Regions from separate parts of the Homo sapiens genome. Here regions 1 and 2 are each linked to region 3. Evidence: fine-mapped expression QTL. A gene starts in region 3. Each other region holds a variant in brackets. All regions are shown on one strand. Distances are from middle to middle.

Region 1 (10,357 bases), 35 kb before region 3:
TACATATTTGTGTGTGTGTGTGTGTGTGTGTGTGTGTGTGTGTGTGTAATTGGACTGGATATGTGAAAACCATAACAGATTCCACCTGCATGGAATTATCTGTGGCACTTGCTGAAAAATTAGAATAATGCCTCAGCTCACAAGGGGCAAGGCAAACTTTTCAAATGAAAATTTTTAAATCTACTTAAAACTACCTATGCCTTCCATAAGCATTAATGAGTCTAGTAGATAAAAGGATGATTCTGTAGATGCCAGTGGAATTTGGGATTCAGTGTCTGGCATAGTTATCTTCACAGGGAACTGCAGAAGCTATTACTTAAATTGTTCTGATAAAATCATGTTTTATCTTGGGAGAATTAAGAATGCTATTCTTATGTTAAAATAAGTGATGGTAGAGAAAGCAGGGAATATAATCAGTAAAATTTGTATGGGTTTAGTAAATTTTTTGCATTTACCCAAAGTTCTATTTAAGTCTACTTTCTTTATATAAATGCACAATTTCTTAGAAGAATTTTCAAGAAAGGGAGAGGAAAGCTAATGAGTGCTTCAAAGCTAATAAAAATATAGTTTTTTCAGGAAAAATGATACTAGGCTTAGTATTGCTTAAAGTTCTTGTTCACGATTGAACGAATGAATAAAAACTATACTCATTAAATATTTAATATCACCATGTTGGGTGGAGTGATTCAAACCTTGAAAAACAGGCTTAGAATATTTTATGAGTATGACAGTTTGGAGTAGCTTGATGAAAACAGGATGAAGTTGTTATTACCACCACTTTGGATGGATAGTGTCATGTTGACTTATCTGTGAGGAACTTGGGGAGCTTTCACATACTTATTTTCAAAACTACCTTGTGCTGCAGGAAACCAATTTTATCTTTTCCATAGGTAGGGCAATTAGAACATGAAGACATTGTGACTCATTCAAGGTTGTAGGCCAGGCGCAGTGGCTCATGCCTGTAATCCCAGCACTTTGGGAGGCAGAGGCGGGTGGATCACCTGAGGTCAGGAGTTCAAGACCAGCCTGGCCAACATGGTGAAACGCCATCTCTACTAAAAATACAAAAAATTAGCCGGGCATGGTGGTAGGCACCTGTAATCCCAGCTACTCGGGAGGCTGAAGCAGGAGAATTGCTTGCACGTGGGAAGCAGACGTTGCAGTGAGCTGAGATTGTGCCACTGCATTGCAGCCTGAGCAACAAGAGCAAAACTCCATCTCAAAAAAAAAGAAGAAGGTTGTAGTTAGTGAAAGATAGAAACTGAACATAGGCTTTTCAACTCTCAGGTCCAGACCTCTGTTCCTTACAGTAGTGTTTGCAAACTGGTGTTCTCCTCAGGATCACCTAGAAAGCTTATGATAACAGACTGCTGGACACTACCCGTAGAGTTTCTGATTTTAGTAAGCCTGGGATGGGCTTGAGAATTTGCCTTTCTAATAGGTTCCCAGATGACACTGATGCTGCTCTCCAGGGAGCACACATTAAGAGCCTCTGCTCTACACCAGTGGCATACCACCCTTTTCAAGTTAAGGCAACATATAAAATGATAATTTGTGTATGATACCCTGGACTAAACTGCAGAGCTCATTCTTAGCTTGAGGTAAATAGCCCAAAACAATAGACCTTGTAACTGAGGAATCAGTATTAGTCCATGAGGGGTCCTCAACAAAAGAAGAAAAATAGAACAGTTCACAGAGCATTTCTTAGAGCTAAATAGATTTAATTTAAAGGACTCTCTTTTATTCTAAAATTACAACCTTCCTAATCCTTTGGTGTTAAAATGCCATTTCTTTCACAAAAGGATTATGATCATAAATGGTTTACTTAATATCAAGCCTTATTTGGAAATCTTAGAAAATGACAACCTCAAAAAAACACTAGAAAAAAAACCAACAATCTGAGGTTGATCAAGATTTTTGTTATTGTTTTGGTCACTGAAATCCAAAAGTTTGGAAATCATTGCTTCAGAAGTACTACTGTCTTCTCATCCATATAACATGGAGTATTACGACTAAGGAAAAACCACCAGCAATAGCTGAACGGGTGAAAGGGAATTATTACCCATCCCAGAAACACTCTGAAATTTTTCCACAGAACTACAGCCAGATGCTGTTGTCAGGGTATATATACCAGAATTTACTTCCTTAACATATATGCCTTCCTCAAATTACCAAATAGAATTTATTTTATTAATTCAAAAGTAAAAATATTCATTTATGGTCTCATCAGGAATGAGTTTTGTTGTAGATGGAATAGCTAACAGCTATTTTTAGAGAATCAGCAAAAATCCAATCTTTCCAAAAATATCTCTTTCACTGCTCCTAAAATTCACATTTTTAGAATCTTTTTGTGTGTGTATGCAGTGTTTTTCTAGAAAGCCTTTTTTAAAATTTATTTATGGGGCCAGGCATGGTGGCTCATGCCTGTAATCCCAGCACTTCGGGAGGCCGAGGTGGGCAGATCGCTTGAGGCCCAGAGTTTGAGACCAGCCTGGGCAACATGGTGAAACCCCATCTCTACTAAAAATACAAAAAATGATCTGGGTATGATGGTGCATGCCTATAATCCCAGCTACTCAGGAGGCTGAGGCAGGAGAGAATCACTTGAACCCGGGAAGTGGCGGTTGCAGTGAGCCAAAATTGCACCACTGTACTCCAACCTAGGCAACAGAGCGAGACTCTGTCTCAAAAAAAAAAAAATTATTTATGATGAGAGACATTAAAACATTACAAAATTAGGCCAGGCACAGTGGCTCAATGCCTATAATCCCAGCATTTGGGGAGGCCGAGGTGGGAAGATCACTTGAGGCCAGGAGTTCAAGACCAGCCTGAGCAACGTAGCAAGACCCCATCTCTATAAAATATTTAAAAATTAGCTGGGCATGGTGACATGTGCCTGTAATTCTAGCTACTTGGGAGATTGAGGTAAGAGGATTGGGTAAGCACAGGAGTTCAAGGCTGCAGTGAGTTATGATTGCACCACTGCACTCTAGCCTGGGTAACAGAGCAACATCCTGTCTCTAAAAAAAAAGAAAAGGCTAGGTACAGTGGCTCACACCTGTAGTACCAACACTTTGGGAGGCTGAGGCAGGTAGATTACCTGAGCCCAGGAGTTTGAGACCAGCCTAGGCAACATGGAGAAACCCATCTCTACAAAAAATACCCCCCCCAAAAATTAGCCGGGCATGGTGGCACATGCCTATGGTCCCAGCTACTTGGGAGGCTGAGGTGGGAGGATCACCTGAGCCCAGGGAGGTCAAAATTGCAGTGAGCCGTGACTGCGCCACTGCACTCCAGTGACACAGTGTGAGACCCTGTCTAAAATAAATTAATTTAATTTAAAAATAAAAATAAATTTAAAAAGAAAAGAGGCTGGGTGTGGTGGCTCACATCCATAATCCCAGCACTTTGGGAGGCTGAGATAGGTGTATCACTGGAGCCCAGGACCTCAAGACCAGCCTGGGCAGCATAGTGAGACCTTGTCTCTACTAAAAATTAAAAAAATTAGTCAGGCATGGGGGCATGGGCCTGTAGTCCTAGCTACTTGGGAGGCTGTAGCAAGAGGATCACTTGAACCCAGGAGATCGAGGCTGCAGTGAGCTATTGTTCATGCCACTGCACTCCAGTCTGGGCAACAGAGGGAGACCTTGTCTCAAAAGAAAAAAAAAAAAAGAATTATAAAATTAGCTAGCCTTGGCCGGGCAAAGCGGACATGCCTGTAATCCCAGCACTTTGGGAGGCCGAGGCGGGTGGATCACCTGAGGTCGGGAGTTCAAGACCAGCCTGACCAACATGGAGAAACCCCATCTCTACTAAAAATACAAAAAATTAGCCGGGCGTGGTGGCACATGCCTGTAATCCCAGCTACTCAGGAGGCTGAGGTAGGAGAATCACTTGAACCCAGGAGGTGGAGGTTGCAGTTAGCCGAGATGGCGCCATTGCACTCCAGCCTGGGCAACGAGTGAAACTCCATCTCAAAAAAGAAAAAAATAATTAGCTAGCCTTTTACTTTGAACATCTCCAATTTTGGAGATTTAGGACAAATACAGTTTTATTTAAGGGAAGTTTTTGAGAGTGTTTGAGAATACTGAGTGGGATGAAACTAAAGGGTTTGAGTAGAAGGTTAGAGGTTGGTGATCAAAAGAACTACTTTTTTTTTTTTTTTCCTGTCAGCAGGGAAAAAATAACTACCCTTTAATTACTTTACCAGTTTTACTCCTGTGTGATCTGATGATCCACTTCTTACAGGTCATCTGGAGCCCTCCAAAGGGACTTTGCTGAAACAACACCAACACCTTTGCTGAGTCATTGTGGGCTTTGGTGAAACTATAGGAATATATACTGTCATGATACAGGGTGAAGGCTTCTCATCTAATAAACATATATTGAGGGTCCACTAGATGCCAGGTACTGTGCACAGCCCTGTGGATGATATGTTGATGGAGACAAGGTTGCCCTGCCATCAAGGAGCCCATGATATAGTGGAGAGTGAACATGGGAAGCTGAGGTGCAAAGGGAACATAAGAGGTGTGCATACCAATAAAAATTAGAGACAGTAGGCCGGGCGCGGTGGCTCACGACTGTAATCCCAGCACTTTGGGAGGCCGAGGCGGGCGGATCACGAGGTCAGGAGATTGAGACCATCCTGGCTAACATGATGAAACCCCGTCTTTACTAAAAATACACAAAAAATTAGCCGGGAGTGGTGGTGGGCGCCTGTAGTCCCAGCTACTTGGGAGGCTGAGGCAGGCGAATGGTGTGAACCCGGGAGGCAGAGCTTGCAGTGAGCCGAGATGGCACCACTGCACTCCAGCCTGGGCGACAAGACTCCGTCTCAAAAAAAAAAAAAAATTAGAGACAGTAGGATGCAGTCAAATAGTCAGAGACTTGGATACCAGCTGAGTCCATGCCAGTTTGTAGTATGATCTTGGGCAAAGTCACCTAGCTTCTGTGGCCTTGCCTTTTCCTTCTGAAAAATGGTAAAGATGCTATATTTTTTCCCCTGTC[A/T]CCTCAGGTGGTATAAGGAGAATATGACTTCAAGGACAAAAAACACTTTGATTTCTTCAAAGGACTTTGCAATTGCTATAAAAATTCAAGATGTCAGTATTGACAGTTTTATAACACAGAGCTAAGATATCTAGATACCATTATCAGGATATGGTAACAATACCCACTAATACTTATTTTATGCTATCTGAATGTTTAAATTTTTTAATGGAGTACTGTTATACAAAATAACTTTTTTTTTTTTGAGTCAGAGTCTTGTGCTGTCCAGCCTGGAGTGCAGTGGCATGACCTTGACTCACTGCAGCCTCCGCCTCCCAGGTTCAAGAGATTCTCGTGCCTCAGCCTCTCCTGAGTAGCTGGGATTATAGGTGCCCACCACCACACCTAGCTAATTTTTGTAATTTTTTTTTTTTTTTTTTAGTAGAGACGGGGTTTCACCATGTTGGCCAGGCTGGTCTCGAACTCCTGACCTAAGTAATCTGCCCACCTCGGCCTCCCAAAGTATTGGGATTACAGGTGTGAGCCACCGTGCCAGCCACAAGATAACTTTTTATCAGATTTTTTTTGTCTCTATTCATATTAACTACACCAAGATCAAGTTACAAAAAGTTGTCAGCCGGGTGCCATGGCTCACGCCTGTAATCCCAACACTTTGAGAGGCCAAGGCAGGTGGATCATTTGAGGTCAGGAGTTCGAGACCAGCCTGGCCAACATGGTGAAAGCCCGCCTCTACTAAAAATACAAAAATTAGCCGGGCCGTAGTGGCGTGCGCCTGTAATCTCAGCTACTTGGTAGACTGAGGCAGGAGTATCGCTTGAGCCCGGGAGGCAGAGGTTGCGGTAAGCCAAGATCGCGCCACTGCACTCCAGTCTGGGCGAGAGAGTGAGACCCTGTCTCAAAAAAAAAAAAAAAAAAAAAATTGTCATATCTGTTGCCATAGCAATGAAGTAAGCTACTCATCAGTCTTCCTACACCTCTGTACATTTATTAAGCCTTCTATTTGAATAAATATAAACTTCATTTCAGGATAAAATATATAGGGAATGGCAAAACTATGAAATTATTTAACTTGCTTAAAAGATTAAAACTGAACTCAACTTTAATTCTAGGCCCTGGGCCGGCCCTTCAAAGCATTGGAAAGTCGTGAAATTGATGTGTTGCTCTCTCTTTTCCAGCTGAACTGTCCCAAGCAATAAACAGTGGTACATTGTTATCAAAACCGTCCCCACCCTTACCACCTAAGAGAGGCATTCCATCAACCTCAGTACCCACCTTGGAGTCTGCTGCTGCCATCACCACAAAAACACCAAGTGATGAAAGAGAGAAGAGCACGTGTTCTATGGGCTCGGAACTACTACCAATGATCTCACCTCGCTCTCCGTCCCCCCCACTGCCTACTCATATACCTCCAGAGCCTCCACGCACCCCTCCATTCCCTGCTAAGACTTTTCAAGTTGTGCCAGAAATTGAGTTTCCACCATCCTTAGATCTACACCAGGAGATTCCCCAGCAGGAAGATCAGAAAAAGGAAGTCCCCAAGAGGATACTGGACCAGAACTTTGGGGAGCCCCATATACCCTCTAGGCTGCCTCCACTCCCACTGCATATTCGAATCCAGCAGGCCCTCACCAGCCCACTTCCCATGACTCCTATTCTGGAGGGTTCTCACAGAGCTCATTCGTTGCTTTTTGAAAACAGTGACAGCTTTTCTGAGGACAGCAGTACGCTGGGTCGGACCAGGTCTCTTCCCATCACTATTGAAATGCTAAAAGTGTAAGTGCCTTTAAAGCTTGCCTCTTATTTCTCCTTTACTCTAGATAGCCCTGCTTGGAAAAAATTACTTATAAAAAGAAAATGTGGGCCGGGCCTAGTGGCCCACACCTGTAAGCCCAGCACTTTGGGAAGCTGAGGCAAATGGACCGATCACCTGAGGTCAGGAGTTCAAGACCAGCCTGGCCAATACAGTAAAACCCTGTCTCGATGAAAATAACAAAAATTGGCCAGGCGTGGTGGCACATACCTGTAATCCCAGCTACTCGGGAGGCTGAGGCAGGAGAATCGCTTTAACAGGGAGGTGGAGGTTGCAGTGAGCCAAGACTGTGCCACTGTACTCCAGCCTGGGCGACAAAGCGAGTCTCTGTCTCACAGAAAAAAAGAAAATGTGAATAATTTTTTTTTTTCCGAGATGGAGTCCTGCTCTGTCACCCGGGCTGGAGTGCAGTGGCACGATCTCCGCTCACTGTAACCTCTGCCGCCCAGGTTCAAGCGATTCTCCTGCCTCAGCCTCCCGAGTAGCTGAGACTACAGGCATGTGCCACCACATTCGGCTGATTTTTGTATTTTTAGTGGAGATGGGGTTTCAACATGTTGGCCAGGCTGGTCTCGAACTCCTGACCTCAGGTGATCCACCTGCATCGGTCTCACAAAGTGCTGGGATTGCAAGTGTGAGCCACCGCGCCCAGCATTGTGAATAAATTTAAAGTACAAAGAATACTCTGCCAAAAGAATAAGTTATAGAATTTGGACTCTTTCTTTTTTTAATCTTACCTTAAAACTTTATTTTTATTTATTTATTTATTTATTTATGTTTGAGACAGGTTCTCACTCTCTCACTCAAGCTGGAGTCAGTGGTGCAGTCTTGGCTCACTGCAACCTCCATCTCCTGGGCTCAAGCAATTCTCCCTCCTCAGCCTCCCGAGTAACTGTGACTACAGGCGCATGCCATCACACCCAGCTAATTTTTATATTTTTTGTTAGAGATGGGATTTTGCCATGTTGCCCAGGCTCACCCTGAACTCCTGGGCTCAAGCAGTCTGCCTGCCTCAACCTCCCAGAATGCTGGGATCATGGGTGTGAGCCACTGCGCCTGGCCAAATTTTGATTTTTTACTCTTGTGATTTTTTTTTTTTCATGGAGATTTTTGTGATGACACAAAATTTACAAAATTATGTACATGAAAAATTACAACCGCTAGTTTTATATACTACAGGGAAGGCATTGTATAATGTTGTGCTTAAGAGCATTCACCTTGGAGTGAGATAGCCCTGGGTTCAAATTGCAGCACTACCACTCTTAGCTTATAGTAGTGTTAAGTTACTGAAGCCTTCTGCTCTTTAGTTATATCATCTCTAAATGGGAATAATATTTACTCTGTAGGCTTGTGAGAATGACATTAGACAAATTCTGGAAAGCACCAGTGCCTAATAAGTGGTAAAGCTGGGATCTGAACCCTTAGATTAATACCTGCTAAAAAGTTTCTTAGTAAGATTGTTAAAGTTAAGGGAGAGAATTAATTATAAGTTACTTCATCCATAGATTTTTTTGTATTTATGGTTATTTCAGTCCTTTGTCTTTTTTTTTTTTTTGAGATAGAATCTCACTCTTGTCACCCAGGCTGGAATGTAGTGGCACAATCTCGGTTCACTTCAACCTCTGCCTCCTGGGTTCAAGAGATTCTCCTGCCTCAGCCTCTCAAGTAGCTGGGATTACAGGCACCTGCCACCATGCCAGGCTAATTTTTGTATTTTTAGTAGACACAGGGTTTCACCATGTTGGCCAGGCTGGTCTCAAACTCCTGACCTCAGGTGAATTTGCCCACCTCCATCTCCCAAAGTGCTGGGATTACAGCCATGAGCCACCACGCCCAGTCTTTATTTCAGTCCTTTGTCTTAAAAGTCAGTTATCCTCTTCATTTCTAAAAGGAAAATATAATTATGTTAATTTGTTAGTCCAGACGATGAAGAAGAAGAGGAGCAAACCTGTCCATCCACATTCAGTGAAGAAATGACACCTACCTCAGTCATTCCTAAATTACCACAGTGTCTACGGGAGGAAGAAGAGAAGGAGAGCGACTCTGATTCAGAAGGTCCCATTCAGTACCGAGATGAAGAAGATGAAGATGAAAGCTATCAGAGTAAGAAAGGGAGGGAAAAGCAAAACAGAGAATTCTTTTCCAGATAAAACTATTTGCTGATCTTAGCAAGTGTCAAAAGAGATATGGAAACAGGTACCTTCTCCCATTAAGTCATCTGGCTAACTGATGTTGGAAGCCACTGTGAAGGACTCCTTGTCCCTATTATCACCCCTCTGTTAAAACAAGCCAAGACAGGGATCCAAGTAGATTGAGTCACTCAGGTTTTAGGTTTTTTGTTTTTTTTTGTTTTAATTTTTTTTTTTTTTTTTGGACAAGGTTTTGATCTGTCACCCAGCTGGAGTACAGTGGTGCAATCGTCGCTCACTGTAGCCTCCAACTCCTGGACTTAAGTGATCCTTACGCCTCAACCTCCCAAATAGCTAGGACAGATGTGTGCCACAACTGGTTAGGTTTCTTTGATTTTTTGTTTTGTTTTTTGTTTTTGTAGAGACAGGGTCTCGTTAGGTTGCCTAGCCTGTTCTTTTTTTTTTTTTTTGAGACGGAGTTTTGCTCTTGTTGCCCAGGCTGGAGTGCAATGGTGCGATCTCGGCTCAGTTTAACCTCCACCTCCCAGGTTCAAGCAATTCTCCTGTCTCAGCCTCCCAAGTAGCTGGGATTACAGGCATGTGCCACCACACCTGGCTAATTTTGTATTTTTAGTAGAGATGGGGCTTCACCATGTTGGTCAGACTGGTCTCAAACTCCCGACCTCAGGTGATCTGCCTGCCTCGGCCTCCCAAAGTGCTGGGATTATAGGTGTCAGCCACCGTGCCTGGCCATAAAAGATATATATATAATTTTTTTTTTTTTTTTAGACAGAGTCTTGCTCTGTCATCCAGACTGGAGTGCAGGGGCACGATCTCAACTCACTGCAACCTCCACCTCCCGGGTTCAAGCAATTCTCCTGCCTCAGCCTCCCAAGTAGCTGGGATTACAGGCGTCTGCCACTAGGCCCAGCTAATTTTTTTTTATTTTTAGTAGAGGCGGCGCTTCACTGTGTTGGCCAGGCTGGTCTCGAACTCGACCTCGTGATCCGCCCACCTCCCACAGTGCTGAGATTATAGGTGTGAGCCACTGTGCCCAGCTGCCCAGGCTGTTATTGAACTCCTGACCTCATGTGATCCCCCTGCCTTGACCTCCCAAAGCTCTAGGATTACAGGCATGAGCCACCGTGCCTAGCCTATTTTTAATTTTTATAGATATATAATAGTAATATATATTTATGGGGTACATGAGATATTTTGATATAAGCATGTGTGTATGGGTAATTAGGCTATCCATCTCAAGCACTTATCATTTGTTTGTATTGGGATTATTCCAAATCTACCTTTCTGGTTATCTTGAAATATACAATGAATTATTGTTAACTATAGTCACCCTATTGTGCCACCGAACACTAGATCTTATTCCTTTTTTTTTGAGACAGTGTCTCACTCT
Region 2 (10,357 bases), 67 kb after region 3:
GGTCAGGAGATCGAGACCATCCTTGCTAACATGGTGAAACCCCGTCTCTACTAAAAATACAAAAAATTAGCCAGGTGTGGTGGCGGGCACCTGTAATCCCAGCTACTCAGAGAGGCTGAGACCGGAGAATGGCATGAACCCAGGAGGCAGAGCTTGCAGTGAGCCAAGATTGTGCCACTGCACTCCAGCCTGGGTGACAGTGTGAGACTCCATCTCAAAAAAAAAAAAAGGCCAGGTGCAGTGGCTCACGCCTGTAATCCCAGCACTTTGGGAGGCCGAGGCGGGCAGATCACAAGGTCAGGAGATTGAGACCATCCTGGCTAACATGGTGAAACCCCGTCTCTACTAAAAATACCAAAAAAAAAAAAAAAAAAAATTAGCCGGGCGTGCTGGTGGGCGCCTATAGTCCCAGCTACTCGGGAGACTGAGGCAGGAGAATGGCATGAACCCAGGAGGCGGAGGTTGCAGTGAGCCGAGATCGCGCCACTGCACTCCAGCCTGGGCGACAGAGCAAGACTCTCTCAAAACAACAACAAAAAAAACGAAAACAAAAGGCGGGGTGCTGTGGCTCACGCCTGTAATCCCAACACTTTGGGAGGCTGAGTTGGGTGGATCACTTGAAGCCAGGAGTTCAAGACCACCCTGGCCAACATGGTGAAACCTCATCTCTGCTAAAAGTACAAAAATTAGCTGGGCCTCCCAGGATCAAGCGATTCTCCTTCCTTAGCCTCCCAAGTGGCTGGGATTATAGGCGTGAGCTACCACGTCTGTCTCTTTTCTTTTTTTTTTGAAACAGAGTTTCACTTTTATTGCCCAGACTGGAGTCCAGTGGCACAATCTAGGCCCATTGCAACCTCTGTCTCCCAGGTTCAAGCGATTCTCCTGCCTCAGCTTCACAAGCAGCTGGGATTGCGGGCGCGCCATCCCACCCAGCTAATTTTTTGTATTTTTAGTAGAGATGGGGTTTCACCATGTTGTCCAGGCTAGTCTTGGAACTCCTGACCTCAGGTGACCCACCTGCCTTCGCCTCCCAAAGTGTTGGGATTACAGGTGTGAGCCACCGCACCCAGCCCTTTTTTGTTTTGTTTTTTTTTTTAAACAGGATATCCTTTTGCCAGTCCTGACATAGTTTGTTAAGAGAGACAAACCTATCCATTAAAATCTCCTGTATTAAAAGCATGGTCTCTGGAGCCATACTCTCATATTAGCTGTGTGACTTTGGACAAATTACTTAACCTCTCTGTTCCTCAGTTTCCTTATCTGTAAAATAGGAATAATGATACACTTATTGCATATGGTTGTTTTGAGGATTAAAAGAGTTAATTGGTGGCCGGGCTCCCAGCACTTTGGGAGGCTGAGGCAGGCGGATCACGAGGTCAGGAGATCGAGACCAGCCTGGCTAACATGGTGAAACCCTGTCTCTACTGAAAATACAAAAAATTAGCCAGGCGTGGTGGCACACACCTGTAGTCCCAGCTACTCAGGAGGCTGAGGCAGGAGAATCGCTTGAACCCGGGAGGCGCAGGTTGCAGTGAGCCGAGATTGCGCCCCTGTACTCCAGCCTAGGCAACAGAGCAAGACTCTGTCTCAAGAAAAAAAAAAGTTAATCGGTATAAAGCACTTAAAATAGTCTGTGGCCACATAGGCAGTGTTACGGAAATGTTTGCTTACACTTATTTTTGTTTCTGTCTTCATTTAAGGAGCCGTGTAAAGCCAGTGGAATATAGTCAGATGTACAGTTATAGCTACAACCAGTATTATCAGCAGTACCAGAACTACTATGCTCAGTGGGGCTATGACCAGAACACAGGCAGCTACAGCTACAGTTACCCCCAGTATGGCTATACCCAGAGCACCATGCAGGTAACCATGACTTGGCAAGACTGGTCCCCTTGGGTTGTGTTTCTCCTCTAGAAACAGGTCATTCTCTAGGATGGGATTGGTAAGGACAGGGGCTTGGGCTTCAGAAAAAATAGGGAAAGTTGAAGCAGTCCAGTTCCTCTTGTTAAAAATAAGCCATTGTGGGTAGGGCCCAGTGGCTCACACCTGTAATCCTAGCACTTTGAGAGGCCGAGGCAGGTAGATCACCTGAGGTCAGGAGTTCAAAACCAGCCTGGCCAACATGGTGAAACCCTGTATCTACTAAAAATACAAAAAATTAGCTGGGCATAGTGGCAGGCGCCTATAATCCCAGCTGCTCAGGAGACTGAGGCAGGAGAATCTCTTGAAACTGGGATGCGGGTGTTGCAGTGAGCCGAGATCACGCCACTACACTCTAGTCTGGGTGACAGAGCTAGACTCCACCTCAAAAAAAATAAAAAATATAAGCCACTGTGGTCCTGGGCCAGGATTTCACCATGCCCCTAACCCACATCTCTGGTCTCTTGGCAGACATATGAAGAAGTTGGAGATGATGCATTGGAAGGTAAGGGTTCATACGTTCCTTACTCTGTCAGCCATTATCAGGTGACTGCTGTGGCTGGCACTGTGCTCTCAGCTAGAGGGAAGACAAGATAAATTCTGCTCTGGAAGAACTTACATTCTGGTTAGAGAGCCAGACAAATATGTAATTATGGTAAGATGTGTCGGGTGTTACCCAGAGGTGTAAGTGTAGATCCCAGAGAGCCTGGGACAGGCAGCTCCAGGAGAGCCCATCACCCCCTTGACATGTGGCATTCTATCCTGGTATGTGGGCCTCTAACGATAATACTGTTACCCTTTTTTTGTGTGTGTGTGTGGTGGAGTTTCACTCTTGTTGGCCAGGCTGGAGTGCAATGGCATGATCTCAGTTCACCGCAACCTCCACCTGCCAGGTTCAAGCAATTCTCCTGCCTCAGCCTCCCGAGTAGCTGGGATTACGGGCATGCACCACCATGCCCAGCTAATTATTTTGTATTTTTAGTAGAGACAGGGTTTCTCCATGTTGGCTTGGCCGGTCTCAAACTCTCAGCCTTAGGTGATCCGCCCGCCTCAGCCTCCCAAAGTGCTGGGATTACAGGCATGAGCCACTGTGCCTGGCCGATAATACTGTTACCTTTTATTTGTTTGACTGTTTGTAAAATTCATTTTTTATTTATTTTATTTTTTTTCTGTTTTTCAATATATTTTAAAAGACATATTTTCCTGATTTTTAAGTCATCGTTAGGATGGAAAATTTGGAAAATATAGTAAAGTATGGGCCAGGCATGGTGGCTCACGCCTCTAATCCCAGCACTTTGGGAGGCCGAGGCAGGTGGATTGTGAGGTCAGGAAATCGAGACCATCCTGGCTAACACGGTGAAACCCCGTCTCTACTAAAAAATAGAAAAAATTAGCCGGGTGTGGTGATGGGCGCCTGTAGTCCCAGCTACTCGGGAGGCTGAGGCAGGAGAATGGCGTGAACCCGGGAGGCAGAGCTTGCAGTGAGCCGAGATCGCACCAATGGGCTCCAGCCTGGGAGACAGAGCGAGACTCCGTCTCAAAAAAAAAGAAAAAGAAAATATAGTAAAGTATAATGAAACTGAAAATCACCCCATATCCTATTACAACATAGTAATAGCCATTATTAATTTTTTCTTTTTCTTTTTTTTTTTTTTTTGAGGCAGAGTCTTGCTGTGTCACCCAGACTGGAATGCAGTGGCGCAATCTCATCTCACTGCAAGCCCGCCTCCCGGGTGCAAGTGATTCTCCTGCCTCAGCCTCCCGAAGAGCTGGGATTTCAGGCACATGCCACCACGCCCAGCTAATTTTTGTATTCTTAGTAGAGACGGGGTTTCACCATCTTGGCCAGGCTAGTCTCAAACTCGACCTCGTGATCCGCCTGCCTCGCCTCCCAAAGTGCTGGGATTACAGGGGTGAGCCACCGTGCCCAGCCCATTATTAATTTTTTAATTAAAAATATTTAAGCCTTGCACGGTGGCTCACCCCTGTAATCCCAGCCCTTTGGGAGGCCAAGGAGGGTGAATCATGAGGTTAAGAGATCGAGACCATCTTGGCCAACATGGTGAAACCCCGTCTCTACTAAAAATAAAAAAATTGCCAGGCGCGGTGGCTCACCCCTGTACTCCCAGCACTTTGGGAAGCCACGGCGGGAGGATCACCTAAGGTCGGAAGTTCTAGACCAGCCTGGCCAACATGGTGAAATTCTGCCGGTACTAAAAATAAAAAAATTAGCCAGGCGTGGTGTTGCGCGCCTATAATCTCACCTCCTCAGGAGGCTGAGGCAGGAGAATCACTTGAACCCGGGAGGCGGAAGTTGCAGTGAGTCGAGATCATACCACTGTACTCCAGCCTGGGCAACAGTGCAAGACTCTGTCTCAAAAAAAAAAAAAAATTATCCAGGCATGGTGGCCCATGCCTGTAATTCCAGCTCCTTGGGAGGCTGAAGCAGGAGACTCACTTGAACCCGGGAGATGGAGGTTTCGGTGAGCCAAGAATGCTCCATTGCAGTCCATCCTGGGTGACGAGAGTGAAACTCCGTCTCAAAAAAAAAAACAACAGTATTTACTGTCTAGGCACGGTGGCTAAAGCCTGTAAGGTCTTTGGAAGGCCAACGTGGGTTGGAGGATGGCTTGAGCCTAGAACTTTGAGACCAGCCTGGGCAACATAACGAGACCCCATCTCT[T/C]TTTTTTTTTTTTTTTTTGGGAGACGGAGTCTTGCTCTGTCACCCAGGCTGGAGTGCAGTGGTGCAGTCTCCAATCTCAGCTCATTGCAACCTCTGCCTCCCAGGTTCAAGTGATTCTCCTGCCTCAGCCTCCTGAGTAGCTGGGATTACAGGCATGCACCACCACGCTCGGCTAATTTTTGTATTTTTAGTAGAGACAGGGTTTCAGCATGTTGGCCAGGCTGGTTTCGAACTCCTTACCTCAAGTAATCCTCCCGCCTCAGCCTCCCAAAGTGCTTTGATTACAGGCATGAGCCACTGTGCCCGGCCAAGTATTTATAATTTTCACTGAATTTCACAGAAGAAAAAGGAAAGAAAAACTGAAAGCCAAGCATGGTGGCCTGTGGTTCCAGCTACTTGGGGGAGGCTGAGGCAGGAGGATTGCTTGGGCCCAGGAGGTTGAGGCTTCAGTGAGCTGTGACTACAGTTGTGCCCCACCATAACTGGCTATTTTTTTCTATTTTTTTGTAGAGGCAGGGTTTCACCATGTTGCCCAGGCTGGTCTTGAACTCCTAGGTTCAAGTGATCTGCCCATCTCGGCCTTCCAAAGTGCTGGCATTATAGGCATGAGCCACTGCTCCTGGCCAAAACTTTTTTTGAGGTACAAAAAGACTCAAAGTTTGAAATCTGTTTTGAGGATTCGTCTTCAAGAGAAAGTCATAGGGAAAATGTTTTCTGTCAAGAAAATGTTCGTTAAAGGAAACAGATCCCTTTTAGGGCATGAACAAACTTGTCTAGTTCATAACATTTTAAAGCACTTTCTTGTGTCCTCTCATGTGATGCCAACTGTAGTGACCTTGTGGGGTGGGCTGGGAAGGACACAGGAGCTCCATTTCACAGATGGGAAACTAGTGGCTCGGAAAGCCCAAGTGATCTGCTGAGGGTCACACAGTGTGGGGCAAAGTCAGGACAGTCCGGTCTTTTTATATTCAAGTCTCTAGTTGTTTCCCCCTGGGAGACATTGCCTTCTTTCTAGAGATAATTAGCCTCATAATATCTGTAGATAAGTCCTTAGAATTTTCCAATCTCTTTTTAATCCTTTTTTTGTTTTCTTTTTCTTGAGAGTCTTGCTCTGTCACCAGGCTGGAGTTCAGTGGCACGATCTCGACCCACTGTAACCTCTGCCTCACAGGTTCAAGCGATTCCCCTGCCTCATCCTCCTGAATAGCTGGGACTACAGATGCGCGCCACCACGCCCAGCTAATTTTTGTATTTTTAGTAAAGATGGGGTTTCACCATGTTGGCCATGATGGTCTCTATCTTTTGACCTCATGATCCGCCCGCCTCTGCCTCCCAATGCTGGGATTACAGGTGTGAACCACTGCGCCAGGCCCAATGTTTTTTTTTGTTTTTTTTTTTTTTGAGACGGTGTCTCACTCTTGTTGCCCAGGCTGGAGTGCAGTGGCGCGATCTCAGCTCACTGCAACCTCCGCCTCCCGGGTTCAAGTGATTCTTCTGCCTCAGCCTCCCGAGTAGCTGGGATTACAGGCATGCGCCATCATGCCCAGCTAATTTTCTTTTTTTCTTTTTTTGAGACGGAGTCTTGCTCTGTCGCCCAGGCTGGAGTGCAGTGGCGCAATCTCGCATGCCCAGCTAATTTTCTATTTCTATTTTTCTAACCCCATAAAGATGGGGTTTCTATGTTGGTCAGGCTGGTCTCAAACTTCTGACCTCAGGTGGTCCGCCCACCTTGGCCTCCCAAAGTGCTGGGATTACAGGCTTGAGCCACTGCGCCTGGCTTTTTTTTTTTTTTTTTTTTTTGAGATAGAGTCTTTGCTCTGTCGCCAGGCTGGAGTGCAGTGGTGCCATCTCTGTTCACTGCAACCTCTGCCTCCCGGGTTCAGGTGATTCTCCTGCCTCAGCCTCCCGAGTAGCTGGGACTACAGGCGTGCACTGCCATACCCGGCTAATTTTTTGTATTTGAGTAGAGACAGGGTTTCACCATGTTGCCCAGGATGGTCTCAATCCCTTGACCTTGTGATCTGCCCACCTCGGCCTCCCAAAGTGCTGGGTTTACAGGCATGAGCCACAGTGCCCAGTTTTTTTTTTTTTTTGAGACAGAGTCTCACTTTGTTGCCCAGACTTGAGATCAGTGATGTGAACATGCCTCACTGCAGCCTCGACCTCCTAGGCTCAAGTGATCCTCCTGCCTCAGCCTCCCTAGTAGCTGGCACTACAGACACAGGTCACCATGCCCAGCTAATTTTTTTTTTTTTTTTGAGATGGCATCTTGCTCTGTTGCCCAGGCTGGAGTGCAATGGCGTGATCTCGGCTCACTGCAACCTCCGCCTCCCGGGTTCAAGCGATTCTCCTGCCTCAGCCTCCCGAGTAGCTGGGACTACAGGTGCCTGCCACCACGCCCAGCTAATTTTTCTATTTTTAGTGGAGACGGGGTTTCACCATGTTGGCCAGGATGGTCTCGATCTCTTGACCTTGTGATCTGCCTGCCTTGGCCTCCCAAAGTGCTGGGATTACAGGCGTGAGCCACCGCGCCCGGCCGAGACGGGGTTTTGCTCTTGTTGCCCAGGCTGGAATGCAGTGGTGCCATCTCGGCTCACCGCAACCTCCACCTCCTGGGTTCAAGCAATTCTCCTGCCTCAGCCTCCCGAGTAGTTGGGATTATAGGCATGTGCCACCATGCCCGGCTCATTTTGTATTTTTAGTAGAGATGGGATTTCTCCATGTTGGTCAGGCTGGTCTTGAACTCCCGACTTCTGGTGATCTGCCCGCCTCGACCTGCTGAAGTGCTGGGATTATGGGCATGAGCCACTGTGCAGAAAAAATTTTTAATAGTATTTTACCACCAGGGACAGGGACTCATGCCTGTAATCTCAGTACTTTGGGAGGCTAAGGCGGGAGGATCACTTTAACCTAAGAGTTCAAGGCTGCTGTGAGCTGTAAGTGTGCCACTGTACTCTAGCCTGTGTGACAGAGCAAGACCCTTTCTCTAAAGTACATACACACACACATACATACATACAGGACTTGGCCTTTCAGCTCCTATATTTGACTGAAGTTCTTCCACTATGCACTTATTGTCAGTTCTTGAGATGATGCTCTGGACTTAATAACTTTGATCAGACCTTCTAAACCCAAATTTGAAGTGAGGACCAGACCAGAAAATCTAGGATACATGATGGCTAGAGACACAGGTGTAGCTTTTAATAGATGCAGGCTAACAGCTGCCATTTTCCCATTCTCTAGATACATTATTCTATTTTCATCTTCCCCAGAACCCTGCAAGGCAGTGCTTTCACTTCCTGAAAGAAACTGGCAGGATAGGGACCTTACCATAGAACAGAGTTCTGGGAGAAGGGAACTGAACCAGGTCCCTTGCAGCTGTCCCTAGACTTCCCTGACCCCATCCTTGCTTGCTTTCCAGACCCCATGCCACAGCTGGATGTGACTGAGGCCAACAAGGAGTTCATGGAACAGAGTGAGGAGCTGTATGACGCTCTGATGGACTGTCACTGGCAGCCCCTGGACACAGTGTCTTCAGAGATCCCTGCCATGATGTAGCCAGGCCAAAGGACAAGCCAGGTTGCATGATGTGAGGGAGATGAGAGACTCCTTTTTAAAAATTGTGAAACCTTTTTGGAAATATGATTTGTAAGATTTTAATAATGACTGTTTTTGGAGATCATGAATGTTTCTACAACACTGCTGCATTCATTTGACCATTTGAGTTTGAAGACCAAGGGAACAACTTTTAAACAAGGTTCAAATTGGTTTCCTTCACAGGAATCCTTTGTCCAGGTAGTTATCCACATAGGACAGTTTGGGATTATCCAAAACTGGGATGAGCAGCTTGGGATAATTCACACACTAAAGCCTGAGTTCAAGGTTTCTCAGTTGACAGGTAGGTATGTAAATCAGGGTTCTCTGGAGTATTTGTAGGACCTGCCATATTTGAGTCCTAACTTGGTGCAAGTCTGGCAGCTAGGTAGAAAAGGCACTCTAGCAGGTGTGGTAGGAGCACGCCCCAGAAGGTAGAATGTGGTGGGGTGTGATGGAACAGGCCAGTTGGCCTAAGAATTAGTACTTGCTCTAATAATGGGTTTCATCTATTTTCATGAGTTGCAGCATCTGCATATACAAGGCCTGGATCACTTTAGGATCAATATTTTGACACGGGAGAAGGCAGCTCAGAAAGGATTAAGGAAGATAGCTCAAAGCCAAAGCAGACCCTCCGTGTGAACTTTATACTGCTCACTTCCGTGTTTCCCAAGTAAATGGGGAAACTGTCCAACCTTGTCATGTGTTGGGACTTACTGCTTGAGGCAAAGCATTCATCCTACATCATAAAAAATCTCCAAAGATCTCTTTAAGGGCTGGGCATGGTGGCTCACTTTGGGAGATGGATTGCTTGAGCTCGGGAAGAGACCAGTTCGGTCTCTACAAAAAAATACAAACACAAATATACTTTTATTAGTCTTTTTATTCTTCTTTTATTGATCACCTCTGAAGTTCAGTAGCACACTGCATAATTTTTTGCATTAGCATGCTGTTGTTTCTACCTAAAATGACCGGGGTCCTTGCCTTCTGCTTCCCATAGAGATTGTCCTGCAAAGGAAGTGTAAGCCATTGTGTTACTAATTCCCAGATTTCCCCCACCCAGACATTTTCCTAGGAGCTGGTCTCAGTCCCATATCCGCATTTCTCATCCATGGATGTCCACTCAAATTAGGTTTCATCCTGGACCAGTCATTCTAAATACAGTGTGTGCTACATGGAACCCCTTGTTTCTACCCCACTCTCAACTCTCCCTAATGCTGAGAGACGTCCCACCAAAGAATGCATCATGAGCTCCAGCCACCACTGAACATTTGTGGCTACCAGGCCTTGTGGCCCACGGTGCCCTCTGATGCCTTCAATGCATTTTAGGGTGGGTAAATCATGTTCTAACCATCTTTGCCCTCTGGTAATGAATAGCTAAGGGCACACGAGGGAGGCCAAATGTAAATGTTACTAAGATGCTAAGACTTTCTGGCCCGGCACAGTGGTTCATGCCTGTAATCCTAGCACTTTGGTAGGCCAAGGCAGGCAGATCACTTGGGGTCAGGAGTTCAAGACTGCCCTGGGCAACGTGGTGAAACCCTGTCTCTACTAAAAATACAAAAATTAGCCAGACATAGTGGTGCGTGCTTATAGTCCCAGCTACTCAGGAGGCTGAGGCAGGAGAATCACTTGAACCTGGGAGGCAATTAGCCAAGATTGTGCCACTGCACTCCAGCCTGGGTGACAGAAAGACCCTGTCTCAAAAAAAAAAAAAAAAAAAGCTGTAACTTTGACACAGACCTAAGTAACCTTATAGTTCTATTAGGTTGACTACTTAGGACAGGATCCCAGATAGTTGAGCACTACCTGCAGCTACACACCAAGTTGTGACAAAGCTTTGGGTAGTCACTAACTTACCCAACTCCATAGGTCCATAGTCACAAATGAGGACAGCTTTACATGTAACATGAATCTAAAAGAAAAAAACACCACCCTTAATTAAGAGGCAAGGAAGCTATGACAGATCCCTCCCAAATGCAGTAATAGGTCAGCTATTACTATACCAACCTCCAGAGCTTCACACGCATCCTTCCCTTAGCCTAAGATTATACTTCATTTTACAATTTCAGAGATCCAACCATCTCTGAAACCTGTCTGAAACTAGCCCACATGCCATATACCAGATTACAACATTTAGGCCAGCTTCACTATTACTTT
Region 3 (10,357 bases):
GTTAAACAACCCAAGTTCTCAGGCCAGGCAGCTGGGCTAAATGATTGACAGAGGAAGAACTAGTGATGGAGATGTAAACTGAACAGGCTTCTTGGCCTTGCTTCATAACCTCTGGTCTGTGCACATTGTTTTCCCTACCTAAGGCCATATTCACTCAGCTCATTAAAATCTAAACGAAATCCAAACCAATATGGCTTTCCTGTGGTCACCAGGGATTTCTCAGCCTTCGGTTATTGCACTTGGCTGCTTTGCAACATTTGGTGCTTTGGACAATGTTCTAGTCCTCAAAACTCTTCTTCCTTGGCTTCTGAGGCACCGCTGTCTTCTGGTTCTCCTTCCCTGACTGACCTTTCTCTGTGCTGCTGGCTTCTTCCTCGAACACCATTTAAATGCTGGGTTTTCGGCCAGGTGCGATGGTTCACGCCTGTAATCCCAGTACTTTGGGAGGCCGAGGCAGGTGGTTCACCTGAGGTCAGGAGTTCGAGACCAACCTGGCCAACATGGTGAAACCCCATCTCTACTAAAACTACAAAAAAATTAGCTGGGTGTGGTGGCATGTGCCTGTAGTCCCAGGTACTTGGGAGGCTGAGGCACGAGAATTGCTTGAACCCGGGAGGCAGAGGTTGCAGTGAGCCAAGATCACAACACTGCACTCCAGCCTGGGTGACAAGAGTGAGACTCCATCCAAAAATAAATGAATAAAATAAAATAAATGAATGCTGTGTTTTACCGGGTGTGGTGGCTCATGCCTGTGATCCCAGCACTTTCGGAGGCCAAGATTGGCAGATCGCTTCAGGCCAGGAGTTCAAGACCAGCCCGGGCAGTATAGTGAGAGGCCATCTCTACCAAAAATTTAAAAAATTAGCTGAGCATGGTGGTGCATGCCTCTAGTTCCCGTTACTCAGAAGAGGCTGAGGTGAGAGAATCGTTTCAGCCCTGGTGGTCCAGGCTGCAGTAGTCCTGATCACACCACTGCATTCCAACCTCAACAACAGAGCGAGATCTTGTCTCAAAATAAAATAAATGCTGGGGTTTCATGTCTTCCCATCACTCTCCTCATTCTTCCAAGACGACTTTAGCCACCATGCTAATTCTTACAACTTCTAAATATTTTATCACCAACTCAGATTTCTTACAGGAAGCCCAACCCCATATATCTAATTGCTCTTTGGACTTATATACAACCAGATGTTACTCAGGTAACTCGTATATACTCCAATGTGGACATTACTCCTCCCCCACTGCCTGCATTTCCACTTATCAAGGTTAGAGACCATAGTATGTTCAGCCTCCTAAGCCTGAAACTCTGGTATCCTCAAGTTCTTCTCTTACCTTGCAATTCCAGTGGGACGACAAACCCTACATCAGAAATGTCTTTTTTTTTTTTTTTTTTTTTTTTTTTTGAGATAGGTTCTTGCTCTGTTGCCCAGGCTGGAGTGCAGTGGCATGATCACGACTCACTGCAGCCTCCATCTCCTGGGCTCAGGTGATCCTCACACCTCATAAGTAGCTAGGATTACAGGAATGTGCCACTACACTCAGCTAACATTTTTTTTAAAATTTTGTAGGCCGGGGTCGGGCGCAGTGGCTCAAGCCTGTAATCCCAGCACTTTGGGAGGCCGAGGCAGGTGGATCATGAGGTCAGGGGTTCAAGACCAGCCTGACCAACATGCTGAAAACCCGTCTCTACTAAAAATACAAAAATTAGCTGGGCATGGTGGCGGGCGCCTGTAATCCCAGCTACTCAGGAGGCTGAGGCAGGAGAATTGCTTGAACCTGAGAGGCGGAGGTTGCAGTGAGCCGAGATCGCACCACTACACTCCAGCCTGGGGGACAGAGTGAGACTTCATCTAAAAAAAAAAAAAAATTTGTAGGCCGGGCACGGTGGCTCATGCCTGTAATCCCAGCACTTTGGGAGGTCAAGGCGGGCAGATCACGTGGTCAGGAGTTCAAGACCACCCTGGCCAATATGGTGAAACCCCGTCTCTACTGAAAATACAAAAATTGGTGGGGCATGGTGACACTTGCTTGCAGTCCCAGCTACTCGGGAGGCTGAGGCAGGAGAATTGCTTGAACCCAGGAGGCAGAGAATGCAGTGAGCCAAGATCGAGCCACTGCACTCCAGCCTGGGCAACAGAGCAAGACTCCATCTCAAAAAAAAAAAAAAAAAGAATTGCTGCGATAGTAAATAATGTACGTAATAAAGCATTCAGAACAAAATCTAATATGTAGGAGGAACACCATAAACGTTACTACTCAAGATAGCCCAGCTGTGATAGCTCTGTCTCTCTAGCCAACGTTTTTCCACCTTACACCACACTAAAAATTCCATCATATTTGCAACATTTCTTATGTATATATATCGTAAGCATTCTTTACTTGCCTACTTCATATTCAGAGGGTTTTGTGTGTGGTAAAATATACATAAAACTTGCCATTTTTAACTAGTTTAAAATGTATAGGGGGCCAGGTGTGGTGGCTCAGGCCTGTAATCCCAGTACTTTGGGAGGCCAAGGCGGGCATCACTTGAGGTGAGGAGTTCGAGAGCAGCCTGGCCAACATGGTGAAACCCGGTCTCTACTAAAAATACAAAAATTAGCCGGGCATGGTGGCATGCCTATAGTCCCAGCTACTCGGGAGGCTGAGGCAGGAGAACTGGTTGAACCTGGGAGGTGGAGGTTGCAGTGAGCCGAGATCACACCACTTCCTTCCAGCCTGGGCGACAGAGCGAGACTCCGTCTCAAAAAAAAAAAAAAAAAAAAAGTCCAGGTGCGCTGGCTCATGCCTGTAATCTCAGCACTTTGGAGGCCGAGGCGGGTGGATTGCTTGAGGTCAGGAGTTCGAGACCAGCCTGGCCAAGATGGTGAAACCCCGTCTTGCTAAAAATACAAAAATTAGCCAGGCACGGTGGCGGGCGCCTGTAATCCCAGCTACTGGGGAGGCCGAGGCAGGAGAATCGCTTGAACCCGGGAGGCCGGGGTTGCAGTGAGCCGAGACCGCGCCATTCCACTCTAGCCTGGGTGACAGAGCAAAACTCCATCTCGAAAAAAAAAGAAAGAGTATAGGGCAGTGCTTTTAATTACATTCATTCACACTGTTGTGCAATGGAGTTTTTTATTTTTTATTTTTATTTATTTTTATCCGGGCCAGGCCTGGAGTTTTTAAACTTTTATCTGATTCGTCTAGGGGCACTTTCATCTTATTTACCTTCACATTTATCAAATTATTTCTTTCACAGGTGACAGAGCAGATTCAATTCCTTTTGATACTCCGTATTTCTCTATATGTATTTTTTTCATTCTGCATTCTTATTATTCCAACGTTTTACTTATTTATTTGGAGAGAGAGTTTCGCTCTGTCGACCAGGATGGAGTGCATCGGCGCGATCTCGGCTCACTGCAACCACCGCCTCCCAGGTTCAAACGATTCTCATGCTTCAGCCTCCCGAGTAGCTGGGACTGGAGGTGCGCGGCACCATGCCTGGCTTATGTTCTGTATTTTTTGTAGAGACGGGGTTTCGCCATGATGCCCAGGCCGGTCTCGAACTCCTGGCCTCAAGCGATCCGCCCCTCACGGCCTTCAGAGCTGCTGTAATCACAGGCGTGAGCCACCGCGTTCGACTCTTCCAAAAACTTTTTGGCCAGTTTATCTAAGGGCATATCCTACAGACTGAGTCCAGTGATTGCACAGAAGTAAACGTCCTCTGCAGCTACATACCTACAAACCTATTTCTGTAACGTACATTCCCCAGCAAGGTCCCGCGGGAAGGATCCACTACCGCGAGAGGCCTCCCAGCCAGGAAGGGGTGGGGCTCAATCTGCAGTAGATTCCCAGAAGCCTCAGTGAGTTTCTGATTCTCTAACTGCGCATGCTTCTGCGCACGCGCAATAGACATTCCAGGACTTCCGGGCACTTCGTAAGGTTTAAAAAGGATGCTTCGCGTTTTCTCTCTCCTTTTTGGAGACAGATTCGCAGTGGTCGCTTCTTCTCCTTGGTAAGTGTGATCCTTGGTAAGTGTGATCAGATGCTTGCCACCGGAGTTGTGGGTCTAATGCTATAGATCAGTAGCCGAGCTTCCCTAGGAAGATCATATAGTATTTTATTTATTTACTTTTTTTTTTTTTTTGAGACGGAGTCGGTTTGTCACTCAGGCTGGACTGCAGTGCTCGTTGCAACCTCCGCCTGCCGGGTTCAAGCGATTCTCGTGCCTCAGCCTCTCCAGCAGCTGGGATTACAGGCACGTGCCACCACGCCCGGCCAATTTTTGTATTCTTAGTGGAGACGGGGTTTCGCTATGTTGGTCAGGCTGGTTTTGAACTCCTGATTTCCGGTGATCCACCACCCTCGGCCTTCCAAAGTGCTGGGATTACAGGCGTGAGCCACCGCGCCTGGCCGGAAATCATGTAATTTAAAACTATATATGGGTGTCTTAGGCGGCATCGGTCCCAACTCTAAAGTACGCGTTAGACGGGCCTGGGCCAGAAGTGGGCCATGGAGACCTCGGGACCCGCAGGGCTGCCGCCCGACCCAGCGAGCCTCTGAAGGTGCACCGCCACCCCCACTGTTTATCTTACTGCCTCATAGTAGGCACATTGTCGTTCTCAATATAATTGCACACAGTTTTATTCTGGATCCTCATTTGCCTTTAAGAATTTTCTCAATTTTTCTTTTTATTTGATCGCACCACTGCAACCTCCGCCTGCTGGGCTCAAGCAATTCTCCTGCCGCAGCCTCCCGAGTAGCTGGGACTACAGGCGTGTACCACCGCGCCTGGCTTATTTTTGTATTTTTAGTAGAGACGGGATTTCACCATGTTGGCCAGGCTGGTCTCCAACGCCTGACCTTGTGGTCCGCCACGCCAGGCCGAAGATTTTCATAATTTGGAAGCATTGCGTTTCGTAATTATGCTTTCTCGTATTTTTGTGATTTGGGTCATTTTTATTTTTATATTTTTAGGATTACAGGCGTGAGCCATCGTGCCTGGCCGATTTGGGGGTAATTAACAAGTCCACGTGTTTCATTTGAATTTAGGATAGCTGGGCCTAATTGTTGTCTTTGCTTCTGCGGTACCTTCCACATAGTACTAACCGCCTATTGTAAAGTAATTAGAATAGCTGAATATGCATGTTACCAGTCTAGAAACCGATTTTTTTTTAACACCCCACTGTGGACAGGGTGGAAACTCGTTTGCTTTCTTGTTTAAGATCTGTAGTAACATGAATGGATGAAATTGTTTCCTATTGGATTCTGTAAATTTATGCGTTACACTGATTGTCCAACGTGGATACACCCGGGAGGTCACTCTCCCCGGGCTCTGTCCAAGTGGCGTAGGGGAGCATAGGGCTCTGCCCCATGATGTACAAGTCCCTTTCCACAACGTTGGAAATAAAGCTGGGCCTCGTGTCTGCGCCTGCATATTCCTACAGCTTCCCAGAGTCCTGTCGACAATTACTGGGGAGACAAACCATGCAGGAAACAGCCTTCTAGAGCACTGAATCTGGATTGAAGTCTTTTTTTTTTTTTTTTTTTTTGGAGATGGAGTCGCTCTGTTGCCCAGGCTGGAGTGCAGTGGCGCACTCCATTGCCTCTGCCTCCCGGGTTCAAGTGATTATGCTAAGTGATTCTCCTGCCTTGGCCTCCTGAGTAGCTGGGATTACAGGCCCCCGCCACCACGCCAGGCTAATTTTTGTATTTTTAGTAAAGACAGGGTTTCACCATGTTGGTCAGGCTGGTCTCAAACTCCTGACCTTGTGATCCGCCAGCCTCTGGCCTCCCAAAATGTTGGGATTACAGGCGTGAGCCACCACACCTGGCTGGATTGAAGTCTTAATACATGTTTAAGAAAAATTGGCTAAAAAGTAGCCAGGCATGATGATAGGTAGCTGGAGGAAGGAGAATCGCTGGAGCCCAGGAGTGACCTATACTCAAACCTATACTCCAGTGCCACTGTACTCCAACCCCAGGCGATAGCATGAGGCCCCTCGTTGAAAAAGTTTAGGGTTTTGCTGTACTAATAGATTAATATCTTGTTTTGCAGGATTTGTTAAGGATTCCAAGTAACTCTTATTTGGTGAGTAAATCTGCTAATTGTTTTTTGCTTATCAGCTCTTTGTCAATGATTTCTGTAATGGAAATAGGATTGAAGAGACTTTTATTCTAGTTGGTCAGGATTTACCTCTGAGGCATTTAATCATTCTCAGAGCAATAGCCAAATATCGACTTTGCTGCATTTTTGTAGGCATGTTGACATAACTTCAACATATGCTCTGTTCTGTAAAAATTGCTTTTTTTAGTCAGCTCATTAAAAGTGCAAAGTAGTAAAAGCTGCCCTAGTGAACTGTAGGAAGCCTAATTGGCTTTATCTACATGTGTAGCCTGAGCTGAGAAAGATACTAGCCCTTGAAAATACTGTGGGTGATTAGCAATATTGGATTTGTCGGTTACTCCAATTCCTCACTAATGAGCATTCCAACGTGGATACCCTGGGAGGTCACTCTCCCCAGGCTCTGTCCAAGTGGCATAGGGGAGCTTAGGGCTCTGCCCCATGATGTACAGTCCCTTTCCACAACGTTGAAGATGAAGCTGGGCCTCGTGTCTGCGCCTGCATATTCCTACAGCTTCCCAGAGTCCTGTGGACAATGACTGGGGAGACAAACCATGCAGGAAACATATCTAGTATACTAGATTTTAAGTTGAAGTAGGATCTTCAGGAGTCTAATCATTATTTCTTTTCTTTTAGGAGAGAAGACGATCTGCACTTCGCATTTTGGCATTGACATTTAATTTTAGGGTCCTTTATATAGAAGGGAGAGTAGGTAAACTGATTTTTTTTTTTAACAGGGAGGGTTTGACAATCTTTGGCAGACTTGGAGCAAAAGATTGAGGTGCATTTCATGCCTCCTTTTGAGAGTCTTGCTCTGTCGCCCAGGCTGTAGTGCAGTGGCGCAATCTTGGCTGCAACCTCAGCCTCCCAAGTAGCTGGGATTACAAACATAAGCCACCACGCCCAGCCCTCATACCTCTTTTAAAAGTCGACCTGTTTTGCAGAAAGTCTGCTGTTTTTGTACTAAAGGCTTTGGAATTTGGCATTTAGCTAGGAATGCACATTCTTTCACCTCATTCATACTTTAAGAACCACAGAAGTGACTCTGCTTGGCCAGAAGGCACACTGTGTTGGTGGTTATATTAAAAGTCCTTGAGTATTTTGCTTTTCATGATCTTGCTCACTGCAACTTCCGCCTCCCAGGTTCAGGCGATTCTCCTGCCTCAGCCTCCCAAGTAGCTGCGACTACAGGCGTGTAGCACCACACCTGGCTAATTTTTGTATTTTTAGTAGAGATGAGGTTTCACCATATTGGCCAGGCTGTTCTCAACTCCTGACCTCGTGATCCGCCCACCTCAGCCTCCTAAAGTGCTGGGATTACAGCTGTGAGCCACCCTGCCCGGCCACTTTTGTATGATTTCTAATGTATTTGTAATTTACCTAACAAATTGCCTAATCTGCTATGTTAATGTATTTATGAATTAAAATAAATACGACTGCATGTTTGTGGTTCATTTTTGTGGAGGTGGCTGTGGTGACATCAGCCAAGAATCTGAATGGTACTGTTGAAGGAAACTAGCATGATAGCTTCAGTTCTAAAGGCCCTGAAACCTAGTCTCAGGTGGGTCCCCCTTGGGTTCACTTTATATTGGCAGTTTATTGGGAAAATGGATATTAGGTCCTGACCAATAGGACCGTAAGTCTGGGTTGAGTGCAAGATGAGTTAGACCGATTCTTTAGCTTCCTGCAGTGTAGTGGAGGAAAAATCGATGGTAGCAACGGGAGGTTGTATCCCTAGCTGATGAGTTGTATGAGCCTCTACTACCTGGCGCACCTCCGCCTGAAGATTGCCAGAATTGCTTGCCTCATGACGTGAGTCACAATGGAAACTTTGTCAAGCCCCCTGCACTGGCTGCCAACATAAATGTTCAGTACCCTGAAGGATGGGACTGAAGGGGGATCATCTAGAAGGTAAAGTTACCTACTGGCATAGGGGAGGTGGGACAGCCGTTAAGCCATTTGGAACTTGATGGAGACAGGTTTGAGGGAGGTGGGTGAGATTGGAGTTTGGTGGACTGTAGAGCTTGCTTGCCAAGGTGTTGAGGTCAGGGTTGGTTTGAGAATGGAAGCTAGTTACTAGCTATGATTGTGGGGGAACACAGCTTGATTTTTCTTACAAGCTAAGAGGAGTGAGGCAGTGTTTAAGAGGGCATGTTAAATGCAGCCAGGCTTGGTGGCTCACACCCGTAATCCCAGCACTTAGGCTAAGGCAGGCGGATCACAACATCTAGAGATCCTGGCCAACGCGGTGAAACCCTGTCTGTACTAAAAATACAAAATAACTGGGCATGGTGGTGTGCACCTGTGGGAGGCTGAGGCAGAATTGCTGGAACCCGGGAGATGGAGGTTGTACTGAGCTGAGACCTTGCCACTGCGCTCCAGCCTGGTGACAGAGTTAAGTCTCAAAAAAAAGGCATCTTCCTAAAGCAATTGTATTTGTGCTTACCTGTGCCAGGCACTGTTCTAGGTAAGCACTAAGTGGGCTTTAATACAGCATATTCCAATGGGGAATCCCAGGAACCAAAAGACTAATTGTCCAAGTCCACAACTAGAAGTGGCACCTCTGCAGAAACAAGCATCAAATTCCCTGCTCAGGAAGAAGCCAGATGAGTCAGCCCCATTCGTCTGTATGCCCAGTCCCATCCGTGTCCTGCTGTAACTACATAGATCTCACCTGAGTAAAGTGATTTTTTTCTGAACCAGTGGTTTTAGTATGTTTTCAATCCATATACTCAGGTGGGTTTGGGTAACTGCAGTGCTGGGCAGGAAATGAATGAATTTCTATTGACTTGCAAGGTAGAGGTGAAGCAAAGCTGTCAGTAGGTGTTCAGGTCCCACTCTGCTAAACTTCAGCTTGCAATACCCCTTTTTTAGACTTTCCAAACAGGCACTTCTGGCCTTGTTCTTTGTGTAGGCAGACAGTATTGGTTGCCTATCTTAGGAGTACTAGACTGGGTTTGAATCCTGATCCCACCACTTGCTGTTCATGAGACTTTGGGTGAGTTACTCAGCCCCTCTGCCTCAATTTCATGTTCACAAAATAAGTGATAAACTACCTCATAGAGTTGTAATAAGGACAAAGGAGTTGGTATTTGTGAAAAGATTCTTAGGGTCTCTAGATGGAGTGCAGCAGCATGATCACTTATTAAATAACATTCTTTTGTGACTTCTCAGAAACCAAGGATACAGTATCCAATTTTTTGTTTTTTGTTTTTTTTTTTTTTTGAGAGGGAGTCTCGCTCTGTCGCCCAGGCTGGAGTGCAGTGGCACAATCTCAGCTCACTGCAAGCTCAGCCTCCCCAGCAGCTGGGACTACAGGTGCACGCCGCCACACCCGGCTAATTTTTTTGTATTTTTAGTAGAGAAGGGGTTTCACCATGTTAGCCAGGAAGGTCTCCATCTCCTGACCTCGTGATCCGCCCACCTCGGCCTCCCAAAGTGCTGGGTTTACAGGCGTCAGCCACCATGCCCAGCTTTTTTTTTTTTGAGATCTAATCTCACTCTGTCTCCAGGAGGGAGTGCAATGGAGCCATCTTGGCTTGCTGCAACCTCCACCTCCCGGGTTCCAGCAATTCTCCCACCTCAGCCTCCCAAGTAGCTGGGATTACAGGCGCACGCCACCATGCCCGGCTAATTTTTTTTGCATTTTTTAGTAGAGACGGGTTTCACCATGTTAGCCAGGCTGGTCTCGAACTCCTGACCTCAAGTGATCCACCTGCCTCAGCATCCCAAAGTGTTGGGATTACAGGCGTAAGCCACTGCGCCTAGCCTCAAGCCTGATCCTTTTTTTTTTTTTTTTTTTTGAGATGGAGTCTTTGCCTCCCAGGCTGGAGTGCAGTGGCGTGATCTCAGCTCACTGCTACCTCTGCTTCCTGGGTTCAAGCGATTCTCCTGCCTCAACCTCCCAAGTAGCTGGGATTACAAGCGCCTGCACCGCACCCGGCTAATTTTTGTGTTTTTTTTTTCAGTAGAGACAGGGTTTCGCCATGTTGGCCAGGCTGGTCTCAAAACTCCTGACCTCAGGTGATCCACCACGCCCGGCAGAGCCTTGATCTCTTAACCACTATCCTCACCTCCCCTTTCCCTAAGGATCCACAATGGCCTCACTGGCTCTTGAAGGCAGGCTGGCACCTTGATCATTCTTCCTGGTCATTAGTATTCTGATCTGGTTATTTTCCATTTTATGTCCATCTAACCTACTTGGAGGATCCTCAAGAGACTGCATATGTAAACTCAGTACTTATTCTTGTACTG

The links. PIP is the estimated chance that this variant, and not a neighbour inherited with it, causes the effect.
Region 1: its variant is fine-mapped to the expression of RCC1 in whole blood (TOPMed, PIP 0.95).
Region 2: its variant is fine-mapped to the expression of RCC1 in whole blood (INTERVAL, PIP 0.96).

What each region holds. Positions count from the first base shown.
Region 1 is chr1:28,467,372-28,477,728 of GRCh38, forward strand. It overlaps PHACTR4 (phosphatase and actin regulator 4), which reads left to right. Exons shown (of 14, transcript NM_001048183.3): 7 at 6,183-6,780; 8 at 8,736-8,920. Among named protein-coding and RNA genes, the nearest start is that of SNHG3, 33 kb to the right of the region's middle. The variant A/T (reference allele first, on the strand shown) is at 5,008.
Region 2 is chr1:28,569,476-28,579,832 of GRCh38, forward strand. TRNAU1AP (tRNA selenocysteine 1 associated protein 1) reads left to right here. Exons shown (of 9, transcript NM_017846.5): 7 at 1,701-1,863; 8 at 2,392-2,425; 9 at 8,025-9,070. The coding sequence ends at 8,161. It overlaps SNHG12 (small nucleolar RNA host gene 12), which reads right to left. Exons shown (of 6, transcript NR_146382.1): 5 at 10,058-10,112; 6 at 9,063-9,205. SNORD99 (small nucleolar RNA, C/D box 99) reads right to left here and starts at 9,347; the gene lies at 9,268-9,347. SNORA61 (small nucleolar RNA, H/ACA box 61) reads right to left here; the gene lies at 10,289-10,357. The variant T/C (reference allele first, on the strand shown) is at 4,604.
Region 3 is chr1:28,502,091-28,512,447 of GRCh38, forward strand. It overlaps RCC1 (regulator of chromosome condensation 1), which reads left to right and starts at 3,953. Exons shown (of 13, transcript NM_001381865.2): 1 at 3,953-3,994; 2 at 6,038-6,070; 3 at 6,740-6,815. SNHG3 (small nucleolar RNA host gene 3) reads left to right here and starts at 3,853. Exons shown (of 4, transcript NR_036473.1): 1 at 3,853-3,994; 2 at 4,130-4,237; 3 at 6,038-6,070; 4 at 6,740-8,802. SNORA73A (small nucleolar RNA, H/ACA box 73A) reads left to right here and starts at 5,275; the gene lies at 5,275-5,481. SNORA73B (small nucleolar RNA, H/ACA box 73B) reads left to right here and starts at 6,468; the gene lies at 6,468-6,672. RefSeq lists enhancers at 4,767-5,061, 5,253-6,018, 7,551-8,316, 8,090-8,309, 9,170-9,219 and 1 more.